Homo sapiens: one gene and its partner. The protein of the gene in region 1 interacts with the protein of each later gene in a pairwise test. Each region holds a gene or a part of one and is shown in the gene's direction. Other genes may lie near its edges.

The links.
Region 2: the proteins of DENND11 (region 1) and SETBP1 interact in a two-hybrid assay, tested with the Homo sapiens proteins (one large-scale study listed by BioGRID).

Annotation. Positions count from the first base shown.
Region 1 is NC_000007.14:141,656,998-141,660,816, reverse strand, and holds part of DENND11 (DENN domain-containing protein 11), read left to right. Parts: 3' UTR 1-3,819.
Region 2 is NC_000018.10:44,697,801-44,701,619, forward strand, and holds part of SETBP1 (SET-binding protein), read left to right. Parts: intron 1-3,074; exon of another isoform or gene 3,075-3,241; intron 3,242-3,374; 5' UTR 3,375-3,546; coding exon 3,547-3,819.

The DNA of each region.
Region 1 (3,819 bases):
CCTTTTATTCTCCTTTACATGCAACCCTCTCTTCTTGCCTCTCAAGGGTTGAGGGGTCCTTTCTGTCAAGTAATGGTTATTTTTCGTGGTATCCTGAGGTTCAGGGTGTTTTAAGCTGGGGGTAGGTGGTTAGAGGCAGGAGTAGAAGTGAAAGGAAAGGTCTGATTCTCCTAGAGGACACAAGAAGACCTCCTTTTTCTGGAATTAGGGAATCTGCCGGAAGGAGCTGTTTGAGGCATTTCTGCTCTGAGCCTTCTATATGCAAACACTGCAGTTTTAACTGCAAGCTCAGAAGTGCTGGTGTAAACATAGCAGGGTGAGAATGAAGTTCCTGTTTTTTCCTTTGAATGGTGAGTCAGGGCTTCTGGGTTCCCTTAACTTTGTGCTTGTCTCGGTAGCTTTCTGTCTCACATCTCCACGTGTCCACCCTCCTGCTCATGCAGAGGGCCAGGGTATGGGTGGCCCCAGAGGAGAACGTGCCAGTGAGGCAGTGCCATGTTTCAGGTCATAGGGGCCTTGGGCTCAGCTGACCCCAATGCAGAACTTCTCCCTTTAAGAGAGATTCCAATAAATTGGTCCTTCCCTACCTTGCCAGCTTCTTCATAGGACCAGAAATCTTGTGCAGAGCCTCTGCTTGGCTGAACAGCGTGTGCTTTATCTCTTCAGTTACCTTTGCCACTGTTGAGCATCCTCAGAGTATGTCTTGCCTGGGCTATGAAGTGGAGCCTGTGGCTTCGGAAATCACCTTTCGAAGCCTTGCTCTATGCCAGATTCTGCTCCCCAACATGACAGATTAACAGGCACAACCTAGGATCCTTTGCTACCAGTTCTCTACTAGGGAATTCCACAGTGGCAGCAGAAGCTAGGAGCCATGTGGACCTGCTTTTCTGCCAGTCTTGAAATATTTTCTGAGAAACCATCTGCTTTTGTTCAGAAGAAAGTGCTGAACATCGTTCACAGACTTCTAGGTCTGTAAGCTCTTTAGGGGCGGGCATTATGATGACCACCGGCCTCCTGGAGGAGGGTTGGATACCTGTGGTGTGACACCTTCTGCCACCATCTCCTGCCGGGCCTCAGCCCTCGCCTGCCTGAGCAGGCCTAGTTCTCCTGTGAAGCTGTCAGCCTGATCTCATGCCACACTGTGAAATGAACTATGTGCCAGTTTGGAAATGATTGCTGACCTGAGATGCTGGCTGGGCTGCCCTGTTGTTCCTGAATAAGTCAGAAGAAGTTCCAGGTGGGAGTGGAATTCAGGTTTGGGGCTCGTTGGTATCCATGCAAAATATGACAAAGGCCTGTTCAAGAGGGCATTTTCAATTCTGTAGGCTCAGCAGATGATACTGCCCAGCCTTTGGGAAAATGTCCAGTTGGCCCCTGGCTTAGGACTCTCCACAAGGAGTTTGAAATGGTAGGGCTTATCCCCTACCAGACTAAAAGTATGGCCCAAATTATGTGTTTAGAATTTGCTTGGCCTTTAAACACGAACCATTCCCTATGCCTGGTAGAGACCATTCCAGTGTCAGTGTCCCACCTGGGACCTGTACAGTCCTCAGTAAATTATGATTGCAATGAATTAGAAGGCTTTTGCCTTCCATATCCATCATCCATTATAGCATCTGTGCTTCCACCTGGTTAGGGGGAGGGAAGCTGAAATCATTGATGTATCAATAGAAGTAATTTAGCTTAGGAACTTGCATCTATAACTTACCTTGTTTTGTTCCACTTTAAAGTCAAGACAAGAAAGTTAAGATAGCACACAGGTGCACATGCTTCCAGATGCCACATGTGAACATTTGTTGATCATGTGACTACCGATGACACTTTAGCTAGAAGATAAATTAAATCTTAGCTAAATCATTGTTTTTCCTTCTGGTGGCTATGAGGATGAATTTGCTCTCAGTCTTGATGCACTGAAAGCCCTTCAAACACAGTAAAAGATGAAATCACTCATCTTTAAACTGAGGCCTTCAGGGAAGCTTTTGTAAAGGACAGTAATGAATTAGGCTTTCAGTTTTAGGACATCAACCCTCCGAGAAAAGGCAGAAACCCGAGGGACCATTTATTTCCCTTCGAAACTGTATAGCCCAGGGAATGGATTGAGATGCTTTCTCCAGACCCTGTATAGGTCAACCTTGCAGAGGTAAAGGAGGAGGGGCAGGTGGATGAATAAAATAGGATAATGCTCAGCTTGGCAGTGGACTTGCCTTAGTGTGATGACAGGTCTAACATGGGCAAGACAATTAGAATGGGGACCAATATGCCAGGCATGGGCTTTTATCTCCCTAGTAGATCCCAAGCTAGTAGGCTTGGATTCTGCCAAATGGCCAGCCCTCCTGTCTTCTCCCCGTACCTTGTAGTTAGACCGAGGTGAGAATCCTGCTGACCCCAGTCCCATCCCCTCTCATTTCAGGAAAACCCTTTTGTGATTCAGGTAGGGGGAGAGGAGGAGTTAAGGGCTCCGTTTACTCCCAAGTCATGGATTTTTAATATTCCATTTTTATCACTAATATACCTCTCTTCCTAGAAGCTACTGGAGTATTGAGTGTTGTGGGAAAAGGCTAACTGTGAATTAAGTTAATGTTTTTCTTATAAGAAATGGAAGTTTATTTTTTTATTGATATTACTATGTGATGAACTGAGTATGCATATACTGAAATGGAAGGAAATTTTAAAACTATTATTCTAGAAGAAATGGGCAGTTTTGTAATTTGGTGGTGGCTGAGACCCCATAGAAGTTTTACTATGTAAATAATTTGGAGAGTGAATAAGGAGATTGTGCTATGAAATCCTGACAGCGCTCTTTAGGAGGCAGACTTGACAGTCCTAGGAAGGTTGACATAAAAATACCAACCTTCAGTAAAGCTCTAGTACAAAAAAGGGTAAATGTCATCATTCTTATTTTTAGGCCTCTTTCTTGAGAGAGGTGGGAGTGGGAGGTAGTGTTATAACTGGCACTTTAATTTGTTTTTGGAACTAGAATTTAGGGGCAGTTGGATGAAATTGCAAATTTAGAAGGGGAATAAGAATTTTCTAGTGCTATATAAAGAAATGATGATGGAGACAAAAGCCTTGCTTTCCTCTTTTTAGAATTTATTTTCGATTTTTAGCATACTGTGGGGCTTTTAGAGCTAATATGATCTAAATTCAGAAAATTTAATTTTCATAGTAGGCCAGGTGTGAATTACTTATGTTTGCTATAGAATGCTTATTTAGACTAACAATAAATTTACTTTGCTTTCTAAGGCCAGTCAGCGAATGTGGGGATGAGGCAGGATGTTTTAAATGAGCCAGAGATGATCCACAAAGTGAACAGTCGACACAGAGGTCTTTGAGTTGGATGGTTGCAAATATATTGACATTAGAGTGAAAACTCCTTCCTTTGGGTAAACTAAAGAAAGATAAAGTATACTAAAAAATTTTAAGATGGTGTTATACAAAAAAAAGTTTGGGTCTAACGTGTCCACAAAGACTGTCAAGTGAAGAATGGTGGAGATTCTTGGTGTTTGAGCAGCCAACCTGGATGAGTGACTTCAGGGACAGAGCAGAGGAAAGCAAAATGAATTTCCTTTATTTACCCAAAACTTGTTGACTGAATTTTTGTATAGGTCCGGGAAAATAAGCCTAAACAAATAGTTGTAGCCTTAGAAAAACTGTTTTCCCATTTCTTTCTGAGTTAGAATCAGCATAGCCTCCCTGTCGCCTTAAATGTAAAAATCCTATTTTGATTAATACCCCAGCCTAAGAGTTATAGCAATACGAGAGACTGAATCTATTTTTGTTTCGGGTCTTTACCTCATAGTATGAAATTAGTAAGACACT
Region 2 (3,819 bases), on another chromosome or scaffold:
GCCATGGAGAATTGAAGACTTGGGGATGATCTGGAAATATGGAAAGGCTTGGGATCTTTTTATTCATTTGTTTATTCATTCCTTCGTGCAACAAACATTTGGGGAACACCAATTGCATGGCCGGCATTGCAAGGATGAGAGGAAGTGGATATAAGAACAGATTCTGTGTATTTTAAAAAATACAGAAAGAACTATGTATAACATTGCTGTGGAGACTGGTTTGACTTGAGTAGTTACTGCAAGTTGGTGGCTAATTTGCTTTGGTCTTTTAAGGCGAGATCAGTATGAAAAGTCTGGAATAGATGAATTCCTAAAGATTAAGGCTATTTGAAACTGCATTACTGTTTTACCTACAGTATTTATTATGACATACTCACATTGCCCTGGTTTGGGTCTTCAAGCAATGTGAATGAAATTTCAGCTGAACTTTCTTATGGCCCCCTGCCTCTAACATCAGATTCCCTTAATCCAACCCTCACACCATGTACCAGAATTATCTTCCTAAAGCTTAGATTTGATATTATTCCTTCTCCACTGCCATTCCTTAAATGGCTTCCCATTACCTGTAAGATAAAATCCAAACTCGTTAGCACAACATTCAAGGAAGTTCATGACTTTGCCATGACCTTTTATTTCCAGCCTCACCTCTCATAGATTCCCAGTTTCTACCATACTTCCTAGCCAAACATCAATTCCCTGTTTCTTCTGCATAATCCTGCACACGCCTGCCCAGGACGTGGCCTCACGTCTTCCCTTTCTCTGCTACGTCTTCCTTCTTCCTGCTCTACCTAGGAAACCCCCATCAAGATCAAAGATCTGTCTTCTGCTCTCCTCAAAGCCTTTCTGTGTAGTTTCCTAGCTACCTACACCTTGCTCAAGTGGAGAAAACTTTCTTCCTTTTGATTCTGTCCTTTCTTACAGTACATATAAAGTTCTGTGTTGTTTTAGAGTGATTTGTCAAATCTCTCATCAAAAGTGTAACTTCCTTGAGGAAAAAGATTGTGTTTTCCTTAGTATTTTGATTTGAGAACAGAAAAAAATTTTTTGTATTGAATTTTTTTTGTGTGGATCTTTTATGACTTGAATTTTAAGTTTCAGAACTTTGTCTTGTACACGTAGTAAAATGTAAGAAATGATTGTTTCATTTATTTCACTCTGAAGTGAATCTTTTTTTAATGGAAGATATTTTCTTAATATTAATAATATATTCAGTGTATAAGCCCATCAATTCATCTAAAGTTTAGAGTTCACCTTCTTTTATTGTATCACAGAATCTGTAACATACATTTCCCTACTCTGGTTCAAAGGTCCAAATGGATTTCATTTAGGAAATTTGTATGTATATGCTTTGTCTTTTCTCCTGACCTGGGGAGATTTTATAGGTAGGTATTAGAGAATTAAAATGTCGTTGGAGATTCCTGCCAAAGGGAATAGACTGTGAACATTACTGCCATAAGAAAACATGGCTTGCAATTTGCATGGATCTGGGATACACACTGAGAAAGACCTACTGGATTCTTACCGCTTGACAAATGGGGAAATTTCCTAAGGTACATTGATGTCTCCAACAGCTGGGGTGGTGCCTGACACTAGTAAGAGAGGCCTCCGTAAAGTCAACTTGAGTATAACTTTTTAAAAATAATGTGTATTATTGGGCAGATAAATCTAGATGAGACAAAAAATCTTATCAGTAAAAGAAACATCAAGTGTCATCTGGTCTAACTTCTCCCCACCTCCCAAAGTGGAGACTTTGTCCATCTTGTAGCATGGGTCACAGGTGGCTGTTTTCAGTTTTGGCTCAACAGTGTCAGTGAAGATGCTCATGCTCTCACTAGGGCAGCTTCTTCTTTTTCAGAAAAGCTGTATTCGTTGAATCTTCCCCGAAGTGGAAGCAGTTGTAAATGTGTCTTTCTGCAAAGCTGAGCATTTTCCAGTAGCTGAATATGCTCCTGGGCTTCTCTGGGGAGCAGGGTCCGTGTTGGAGCCGGGGCTGCCTTCCTGGCTGGCTTCCTCACAGGGCGTCAGCTAAAAATGTGCTGATTCTGGAGACAGAAGACAAACGTCTGGTCTTCAGGCTTCCAGTTCTTGGTTATTCTGAATATGTCTTTGCAGGCATCGTTGGGCATTTTTTGGTGGGCACATTTGCCAGCCACTTTAAATTGATGGGCTCAGAGGTAGAAACCTAAGATGTACAGTCATGTCTTCTGCTGGGAAACTTAAGTGTTCAGCAGCTGAGAAAGCTTGAGTGTGATCCAGCGTACAGCCTAAGGGTGGGAGGATGTGATGTTTGCAGCCCCAGGGCTCTTGGTTTTCTCCTGAGACTGAGCGTTTGGGCTTCCTTTTGGGCTTTGAAAATTATGAGTATGAAATTGGGAATAATAGAACGTGGGGTGAAGAAGGGTGAAGGAGAGTTTAGCTGATCCTGTGACAGTTTGGAGAGAGCCTAACTGATTTTTCTCTTCTCATCTTGGAGGAAGGTAGAGAGGAAGATCCTGGGGGGACTCCTGACACTTCCACAGGCCTATAAAATGCTCCTTCTCTCCCTTTTTCTCTTTTGCTGCTATGGAGACACAATACTACTTCATTTAAGAAACCAGAAAGGGAATTACAACTGTCTAGAAAGGCTATTTTTAATCTAAATAATTGATAATGATTAAATTTCTCTCTTTTGTGTCAGTAGAAACATTTGTTGAAGTTGTTTTCCATTAATCACAGTGTTATAAGTGATTTGCCACTGAACTCTTTTTATTTTCTTTTTGTGTGCCTCAAACCTAAGCTTTGCATTTGCTTGAAGAAATAGAGAGGTCTTTGCATAATTGAAATAATGCATAGTGAAAAATGATAAAGGTAAAATGGTTAAGAGATAGGCTGAATGCCCCTCCTCCAAGTGGGTGGAGAGCTTGGCCCAGGCAGCCTGGGGGTTGTGCTCAGCTTTGCAAACTGTTCTTCACATGTGACAGAGAAGCGGTGCAAAAAGCCAACCAAATACAGTTCCAGCAGACCTGAGCCTCAACACTTCAGACTTCCCTTTCGTCATGATTGGTTTTAACAGTGACTCAGCCAGCTGAAGCTTCAGTATAAAGAAACCTCTAGCTTGCTACCGGGCTGGAGAACTCGCACCTCTTATCTTTATTCTTGGGCCTACAGCTATAAAATTAATAGCAATCCATTATGAAGGCGTGTGTGAATGTGTTTTTCCCTCTGCTCTAGTAAAATCCAATTTGGGGATGTGCTTATTCTGGTTAGCTGTTTTTCCATCATTTCTTTTTTCCGGATGCCATAGATACGTGGAAGGGGGCCTCTGGAACTTAGATTGAGTAACCTTGGGGGTCATTTTCCTTTCTGCCATGCCTAACTGTCTCTTTGCTTCTCAGTTGCAGATCTGATCTCTTCTGAACACCTCATCGTGTCTCCATCCCTGGGAATCTGACCCTAGCAACTGGACCACTTTGTTCTTGGAATTTTGGGTGTCCTCTTTTCTCACCTTTCCCTTTTCCCTTTTCCCCTTCCCCCTCCTGAGAACTCCGGAAGACTGTAGAGATTGTCATGGAGTCCAGGGAAACCTTAAGCAGCTCCCGGCAAAGAGGGGGCGAGTCAGACTTCCTGCCGGTCTCCTCAGCCAAGCCCCCAGCTGCTCCTGGCTGTGCAGGAGAACCTTTGCTCTCCACTCCAGGACCTGGGAAGGGGATCCCGGTGGGCGGAGAGCGCATGGAGCCAGAGGAGGAGGATGAACTAGGCTCAGGGCGGGATGTGGATTCCAACTCCAACGCGGACAGTGAGAAATGGGTGGCAGGAGATGGTTTGGAAGAGCAGGAATTT